Regions from separate parts of the Homo sapiens genome. Here all the other regions are linked to region 1. Evidence: fine-mapped expression QTL. A gene starts in region 1. Each other region holds a variant in brackets. All regions are shown on one strand. Distances are from middle to middle. Region 1 holds the start of TRIM37 (tripartite motif containing 37). Region 2 overlaps TRIM37 (tripartite motif containing 37). Region 3 overlaps TEX14 (testis expressed 14, intercellular bridge forming factor).

Evidence for each region. PIP is the estimated chance that this variant, and not a neighbour inherited with it, causes the effect. A credible set is the group of variants that fine-mapping cannot tell apart.
Region 2: its variant is the best candidate, but not a certain one, in a credible set for the expression of TRIM37 in Th17 cells (Schmiedel 2018, PIP 0.51).
Region 3: its variant is the best candidate, but not a certain one, in a credible set for the expression of TRIM37 in lymphoblastoid cells (GEUVADIS, PIP 0.59).

The regions. Positions count from the first base shown.
Region 1 is chr17:59,105,539-59,108,297 of GRCh38, reverse strand. TRIM37 (tripartite motif containing 37) reads left to right here and starts at 1,418. Exons shown (of 24, transcript NM_015294.6): 1 at 1,418-1,857. The coding sequence starts at 1,837. LOC124904039 (a long non-coding RNA gene) reads right to left here and starts at 1,202. Exons shown (of 2, transcript XR_007065864.1): 1 at 707-1,202. RefSeq lists enhancers at 895-974, 1,015-1,064, 1,435-1,534, 1,011-1,670, 1,625-1,754 and 2 more and a silencer at 1,195-1,304.
Region 2 is chr17:59,070,147-59,072,905 of GRCh38, reverse strand. TRIM37 (tripartite motif containing 37) reads left to right here. Exons shown (of 24, transcript NM_015294.6): 9 at 1,959-2,083. Among named protein-coding and RNA genes, the nearest start is that of TRIM37, 35 kb to the left of the region's middle. The variant C/T (reference allele first, on the strand shown) is at 1,276.
Region 3 is chr17:58,653,751-58,656,509 of GRCh38, reverse strand. All of the region lies in intron 1 of TEX14 (testis expressed 14, intercellular bridge forming factor), which reads left to right. Among named protein-coding and RNA genes, the nearest start is that of IGBP1C, 37 kb to the left of the region's middle. The variant T/G (reference allele first, on the strand shown) is at 1,101.

The sequences.
Region 1 (2,759 bases):
AAGTACAGCATTGCATTTTTTTTTTTTTTTTTTTTGAGACGGAGTTTCACTCTTGTTGCCCAGGTTGGAGTGCAATGGCGCGATCTCGGCTCACCGCAACCTCCGCCTCCTGGGTTCGAGCGATTCTTCTGCCTCAGCCTCCCCAGTAGCTGGGATTACAGGCATGCGCCACCACGCCCGGCTAATTTTGTATTTTTAGTAGAGACGGGGTTTCTCCATGTTGGTCAGGCTGGTCTCGAACTCCCGACCTCAGGTGATTCGCCAGCCTCGGCCTCCCAAAGTGCTGGGATTACAGGTGTGAGCCACCACGCCAGGCCTAGCACTGCATTCTATAAATAATTCTTTTAAGTAAAATTCTCATAATATTAACCATCAACCATTTAAAAATGTACAACTGAGGCCATTTTCGTAAAAATAGCTCCATGTAGGTCAAAGACCACAAATAATTCTTACTGAAAGAATTTTTCAGTCTCAGATTAATCTTTCTAAATTATATCTTGTTCATGACCCAAGTAGTTAAAAAAAATTGTTGCTACCCACCACCTATAAGCCTAAATGCCTGATATTCAAGAACTTATTTCTAGATTATTAGTGATTCTCTACATGTGCACTCTAGGTCGGTTAAGTATAATTAGTTGTTTGCAATAAATACAGGAAAAATTAAATTCAAATTACGAATTTGATATGCCCTCTTTGTCTCACAAACCTTCAATTCTTGCAATCTTTACACATCTGGCAGGAAACTGTAGAAAGCAGATCCCATTTATAGGAAAGATGAATATCGCTGATACCCTTTCAATAGTCCCACGGCGACAACTTAGGCGGCAAGAATGAAGTGTGGGATGTGGGAACGAAGACTTCACAGTGTGTGGTCCCGTCCTCTCACCACCGTAATGAGAAATGACACCTCAGTTTGGAGCCTTCTAACTCGATTAGCTTTGGTAGGTGGAACGCAAGTCCTACAAACCTTAGACTGTTCCTTCCAGAGAGAACCACTAACCATGAACCTTCTGCACCAGGGTTTCTCAAAGTGCGGGCCACAGACCACCTGCTGCCGAATCACACGATGCTGGGTGAAAACGCGGATGGCCTGGGCCCCACCCTGGAATCTCAGAGTCCGAATACTTAACTACGGGTGTGGCTCTGAAGTCTGCGCTTTCCACCAGTACGCCAGGTGGCTCCGTCTTTGGCGCGCAAGTTTGAGAGCCGTGGGGCCCCGCCCTCCGCCAAGGTGGGCGTGGGTGGCGTAGCAGAGCCCCAAGCTCAGGCCGCCTGCGCAGGCTAGGGCCGGAGGCACGCAACCCTGAGGCAGCGAGTCGCCAAGTCTCGTATGCGCCCCGCAACGCGGGAACTAGGCGATCGCTCCACGCTCCTCCCCTCCTTTCCCCTCCCACAGCGTCCTGCGCGCATGCGCTTCGCAGCTTCTCTCGCCGCCGCGCCCCCAGCTGCTCTGGTTACGGTTGGTGTTTGCGAATTCTCTGCGGCACCTTCTTCGCTGAACTCCACCGTCAGTTCCATAGGCGCGCGCCCGCGTCACGTGGGCCGAGGTTCCGGCGCGGCTGCTGGCCGGCGGCTGAGCCGGGAGAAAGGAGCTGCGGCCACCGTTCGCCCTACTTCTGCGCCTCGGGGCGGGCGCGCCGGTAAAAATGGCGAAATGGGGGTAGGCGGCGCTGGACCTGAAGAGATGGGGCGCGCAGGTGGGGCGGTTGTCAGAGCCCCCTGACGTGGGCGCCGGGCTTTTATCGGCGATTTGATCTGGCGACCTCGGGCCGGCGCCTAAGAGGTCAGACTGCGGAGCCTGCGGGTCGCCAGCGGCCCCGCCGAGAGCCGGAGGCAATGGATGAACAGAGCGTGGAGGTGAGGGGGTTGTGAGGGTGGTGGTTAGTCCCCGCCCCCACCCGATGAGCGGTTTTTATTCGGGGAGTCGTGCCCATGTCCTCCCTCCAGTAGGGCACCCCTACCCCGCCCCTGCCGCTGTGGAGAGGGCTGGCCCGGTACCAAGGATGCCGTGCCCATTCTGCAGCGCTCCGGGTGTCTTGTGCTCACTGTTCCGCAGTCAGGTGGTGCGTATCCTGGAGTTTTCAAGGATGTCTTGGCACAGGTACTCATCCCCACCGGGTGTTTGCAAACAGCATCCTTTTCCGACCAAAACTGCAGATTCATCAGATGGATGTACCCTGCCACTCGCCACCAGTCCTTGCGAGTTCTTGAGCTGATCTAAATCTCCTTCCAAATGGATAGTCATCTTTCCCTCTCAGTGGCACATTTTGCAGGCTTCTGCCCTTCCTTCCTAGATTGAATCAGCATATATTATCTCATGTGTAGTTTCCAGAACAAACTCTTCTTTTTATAACTGATTCTTGTAAGCTGTGAGTTAAAATAGTTGGGATATGTAGGATATGTAAGTAAAGGCTAGGAATATATTTTAAAAGATTGTTTATTGAACATAATTGTGTAATCATTATCAAATTTTGAACCTTTCAGATACTGAAATAGGAAATCCTTGCTTTTTAGTAAGGGGTAACTATGTTATGGATATTCCACTTGAAACTAGTCATTCAGTAGTCTTATTGTCCACCCCGTTGCAGGTTACAGAATCTGCATCTCCCAGGTTCTTTCTGGCCCTACAGAGTCATGATGAGATTAATGAGTAATTTTCTCCTTAATTCCTCATATAAAGTATTATAAAGGTTTTGTAAACTTATCTTGGTTTTAGGAGGGTTTAATTCTAGAATGGAGTGAAAGTAAATGTCAGTAAT
Region 2 (2,759 bases), 35 kb after region 1:
GACAAAATATGCAGCTGTTTGTTGTTTTCTGCTGTTACCACTTACCATTATGTCATTGGTTGATGCAGTAGCTCAAACATGATATCATTATTCTTGGTAACCCAAGACTATAAACTTTGATATATATCATATGATATATGATACTTTTTTTTTTTTTTGAGACAGAGTCTTGCCTTGTCGCCCACGCTGGAGTGCAGTGGCGTGATCTTGGCTCACTGTAACCTCCGCCTCCTGGGTTCAAGCAATTCTTGTGCCTCAGCCTCCTGAGTAGCTGGGACTACAGGCACGTGCCACCACGCCCAGCTAATTGTTATATTTTTAGTAGAGATGGGGTTTCACCATGTTGGCCAGGCCTTGAACTAGCCAGGTCATGAGGTCTTGAACTCCTCACCCTAAGTGATCCACCCGCCTCAGCCTCCCAAAGTCCTGGGATTACAGGTGTGAGCTATTGTGCCCAGCCATATGATATGTTATTTTTGGTGAGCCTTAAGCAACTGTTATTTAAAAGATATAAACTCACCTGTAGGTGGGTTTATGAATATCATTCATATGGCATTTGATAGTATATTAGCTTGCTAGGCCTGTCATAACAAAATACCAATGACTGTGAGACTTAAACAATAGAAATTTGTTTTCTCAGTATTCTAGGGGCTGGAAGTCTAAGATTCAGGTGTTGGCAGGTTTCGTTTCTTCTGAGGTCTCTCTCCTTGGCCTGTAGATGACTGCCTTCTTACTGTGTCCTCACATGGACTTTTCTGTGTGGTTGTGCAGCCCTAGAGTCTCTTCCTCTTAATAAGGACACCAGTCATGTTAGATTAAGGCCCTACCCCAGTGGCCTCATTTTAACATAATCACCTCTTTAAAGATTATCTCCAGATAGACTGAGGTACTGGAGGTTGAGCCTGCAGTATATAAATTATGGAGGAAAGGGGCACAAAATTCAGCACATAACAGATAGTTTACAAAGCTTTTTCACTATAGCTTCATAATCCTTATAACAAACTTCACGAAGTAAGCAGTGGTGGATATTACTATTTTAGTTTTGTATGTAAACAGACTCAGAGTTATGTAATTAGTCAGTGGCAGAATTGGGAGTTACTTCAAACTGGTTTTTTTGAAGAAAAAATTAGTAGTCTTATCTTTTATCTACCATGGTTATGTTACTGAAGTTAGATTTGTTACTTTTTCCCAAAATAGTGTTTCCCAAATTAGTATCAGATAGTGCGTGTGTGTGTGTGTACACACGGGTGTATGTGTGTACGTTTTGTATTCTGT[C/T]ACCTAGAATACAATCTGAGAAATTGCTTTTAAAAGCTTTCACCTTGGTCGGGCACGGTGGCTCACGCATGTAATCCCAGCACTTGGGGAGGCCGAGGCAGGTGGATCATGAGGTCAGGAGTTCAAGACCAGTGTGACCAACATGGAGAAACCCTGTCTCTACTAAAAAATACAAAAATTACCTGGGTATGGTGGCACCCACCTGTAATCCCAGCTATTCAGGAGGCTGAGGCAGGAGAATCGCTTGAACCCAGGAGGCGGAGGTTGCAGTGAGCCGAGATCGCGCCATTGCACTCCAGCCTGGGCAACAGAGCAAGACTCTGTCTCAAAAAAAAAAAAAAAAAAAAGCTTTCAACTTACCGGTTTGTTCATTAATACATTCATAAGAACTTCACTGTACCAGCCTGAAAGTATATTTGTACTTGCTTAAAACCTCATTTATCCTAAAATGTAAGGAGAGAAAAATGCATTAGTATTAAGTATACTTATTCATTGACTTTACTGTTAGAATATTATAGAAATAAACCTAGATTCTTTGTACATTCTTAATTCTCAAGCTCACTTTGAGTTATTTTTATCATTTTTTTCAGTTTATAATCAGAATAATTTGTAATTTCTTAAGAATTTTGAGGTGGCAGTGAATAGTAATTTTGTTTGTTCAGATAATTTTTTTCCTCACACAGTTGCGGTCTTGTAGTAAGAGTGAGTTGATATCTAAGAGCTCAGAGATCCTTATGATGTTTCAGCAAGTTCATCGGAAGCCCATGGCATCTTTTGTTACCACTCCTGTTCCACCAGACTTTACCAGGTATGACACAGTTTTTAATTTCATTTTCATTTGAAATTTATGTGGAAATGCATATACTTGTTTCAAAAGAATGTTTTTTTTTTTAATGCCATCTCTCTCTCTCTTTTCTTTTATAGATAGGGTCTCACTTGTTGCCCAGGCTGGTCTCAAACTCCTGGACTCAAGTGATTTTCCCACCTTGACCCCCCAAATTACTAGGGATCATAGACATGAGCCACCACACTTGGCCACTCCATAGCTTTTTAAGGTCTTGTTTATAATGGAGTGGTCTGGCAAGCTCTGTTGTATACATACAAATCTAGTTCTCCTGAAAAGTCTCACAGACTGATACTTTTGACTCTTAAGAGAAAATGACAATGAACTAGAAATCATTTTTTTTTCCAAGAGCTCCATCTTCCGTAGTATAGAAAAAAATAATTGATTACATTAGCTTCATCAGTGTACCTTTTGAATTGAACTATATCTCCTAACACAAAACTCAGAAACTGATGAAATGCCAAAAGAATTTGAAGGTGACGCCATGTTATCTCCGGATACTAAAAGATAGAGAGAGGAAATAATTATGGCAAAAAGTATCCTAGTTTTCATCTTGGGCTAAACCTTAGAATTTTTCTGAACAGCATATTCCTTCAAGCATGTTTGTAATCATTCTGTGGTGTTAGACTGGTGGTTTCTG
Region 3 (2,759 bases), 450 kb after region 1:
TGTTGGGATTACAGGCATGAGCCACTGTGCCCAGCCTTTTGGTTTTTGTTTTGTTTTGTTTTTTTGAGACAGAGTCTTGCTCTGTTGCCCAGGCTGGAGTGCAGTGGCATGATCTCGGCTCACTGCAACCTCCACCTCCCAGGTTCAAGCAGTTGTCCTGTCTCAGCCTCCTGAGTAGCTGGGACTACAGGCGCCCGCCACCACATCCGGCTAATTTTTGTATTTTTAGTACAGATGGGGGTTTCACCGTATCAGTCAAGCTGGTCTTGAACTCCTGACCTCATGTGATCCACCCGCCTTGGCCTCCCAAAGCGTTGGGATTACAGGCGTAAGCCACTGTGCCCGGCTGCCCAGCTAATTTTCGTACTTTTTGTAGAGACAGCATTTCGCCGTGTTGCCCAGGCTGGTCTCAAACTCGTGACCTCAGATGATCCACCCACTTCGGCCTCTCAAAGTGCTAGGATTACAGGTGTGAGCCATCGCGCCCAACCAAAACCAGGTTTCTGAACTGAGACCCAAAGGGCCCAGGAGTACTTCCCCAAAACAGTGCCCTTTAACAGGACCCTCAAAGAGTTTACAGGGCCTCTGAGGAGGCCAACAGATCAGGAGAAGGGAAAGGGAATATGGATTATGCTTGGGAATAATCATCAGAGACATCTTCCGGAATCAGAAACCATTTCTCTGCTGCAAGCCAGCTTATGCGCCTAAGGTTGGCAATGCCCCTGCCTACAAGGGAGGTGCCAGACATGGCCCCTGGCTTAAAGGAGGGCTCGTCTCGGGGTGCCGAAATGTCAGGGTTCTGACATTCTGTTCCAGGACAGAATGAGGTCCAGCTTTTTGTTCTCACAGTCCAATAATGAGATCCAGACTGGGAAAGAAGGGAGTTTATTGGCCAGGTGCGGTGGCTCACTTCTGTAATCCCAGCACTTTGGGAGGCCAAGGCAGGCGGATCACCTGAGGTCAGGAGTTTGAGACCAGCTTGGCCAACATTATGAAACCCCATCTCTACTAAAAATACAAACATTAGTCGCCGGGTGCGGTGGCTTCTGCCTGTAATCCCAGCACTTTGGGAGGCAGAGGCGGGTGCATCATGAGGTCAA[T/G]AGATCGAGACCATCCTGGCCAACATGGTGAGAACCCATCTTTACTAAAAATGCAAAAATTAGCTGGGCATTGTGGTGCGTGCCTGTAGGCCTAGCTACTCGGGAGGCTGAGGCAGGAGAATCGCTTGAACCCGGGAGGCGGAGGTTGTGGTGAGCTGAGATTGCGCCCCTGCACTCCAGCCCAGCCTGGTGACAGAGTGAGATTCCTCAAAAAGAAAAAAAAGAAAAAATTAGCTGGATGTGGTGGCAGGCGCCTGTAATCCCAGCTACCCAGGAAGCGGAGGCAGGAGAATGGCTGCACTTCAGCCATTCTCACCACTGCACTTCAGCCTGGGCAACAGAGCAAGACTCTGTCTCAGGAAAAAAAAAAAAAAAAAAGAAGGGAGTTTATTTCTGCAACTGGTTACAGGGAGAAGGTTGGAGTAACTCAGCAGACCAACTAAAAAAGTTAAAAGTTTTGGCCAGGCGCGGTGACTCACGCCTATAATCCCAGCACATTTTGGGGTGCCGAAATGTCAGGGTGTTCTAGGACAGAATGAGGTCCAGCTTCTTGTTCTCACAGTCCAATAATGAGATCCAGACTGGGAAAGAAGGGAGTTTATTGGCCAGGTGCGGTGGCTCACTTCTGTAATCCCAGCACTTTGGGAGGCCAAGGTGGGCAGATCACCTGAGGTCAGAAGTTTGAGACCACCCTGGCCAACATGGTGAAACTCCAACTCTATTAAAAATACAAAAATTAGCTGGTAATGATGGTGGGCACCTGTAATCCCAACTACTTGGGAGCCTGAGGTCTGAGAATCGTTTGAACCCAGGAGGTGGAGATTGCAGTGAGCTGAGATCGTGCCACTACACTGCAGCCTGGGCAACAAAGCAAGACTCTGTCTCCAAAAAAAAAAAAAAAAAAGTTACAAGTTGTTTTTTTTTTTCCAAAGCTTCTATACATTCAAGGTCCATGCCTATAAGCGGGAGTGCACCTACAAGGTGGAGTGTTTCATTCAATCTATATCTAATCTTTAACTAGGATCTAGGGTCTGGAAAGCTTTCTCTAGAGTCTTGGAAAGTTTCTTAAGTGGTCCTTGGTACAAGGTGTATGTGTAAAAATGCTATTATTATTTGATCAGACTTTAGGGCCTGAGAAAGGCCAGGTGGTGTCTTAATGGGTTTGTTTTTGCATTCCAGCCCTTGTAGTACTCAGGCACCAGTTTCTCCAATTCTTTTTATTTTTTATTTTTGAGATGGAGTCTTGCTCTGTCGCCCAGGCTGGAGTGCAGTGGTGCAATCTCAGCTCACTGCAAGCTCCACCTCCCGGGTTCACGCCATTCTCCCGCCTCAGTCTCCCGAGTAGCTGGGACTACAGGCGCCCGCCACCATGCCCGGCTAATTTTTTGTATTTTTAGTAAAGATGGGGTTTCACTATTCACAGGATGGTCTCAATCTCCTGACCTTGTGATCCGCCCGCCTCGGCCTCCCAAAGTGCTGGGATTACAGGCATGAGCCACCATGCCCGGCCCAGTTTCTCCAATTCTTTAATGTTTAACATATGCATTCATCAAAATTATAGTAAAGGGTTAGTGGAACCAGATTGTTCTGGCTGCTGATGGAAACCTGGACTGCCACAAAGGGGGCACTGAGCCATGGTTAAATGCCCACAAGGGGCAT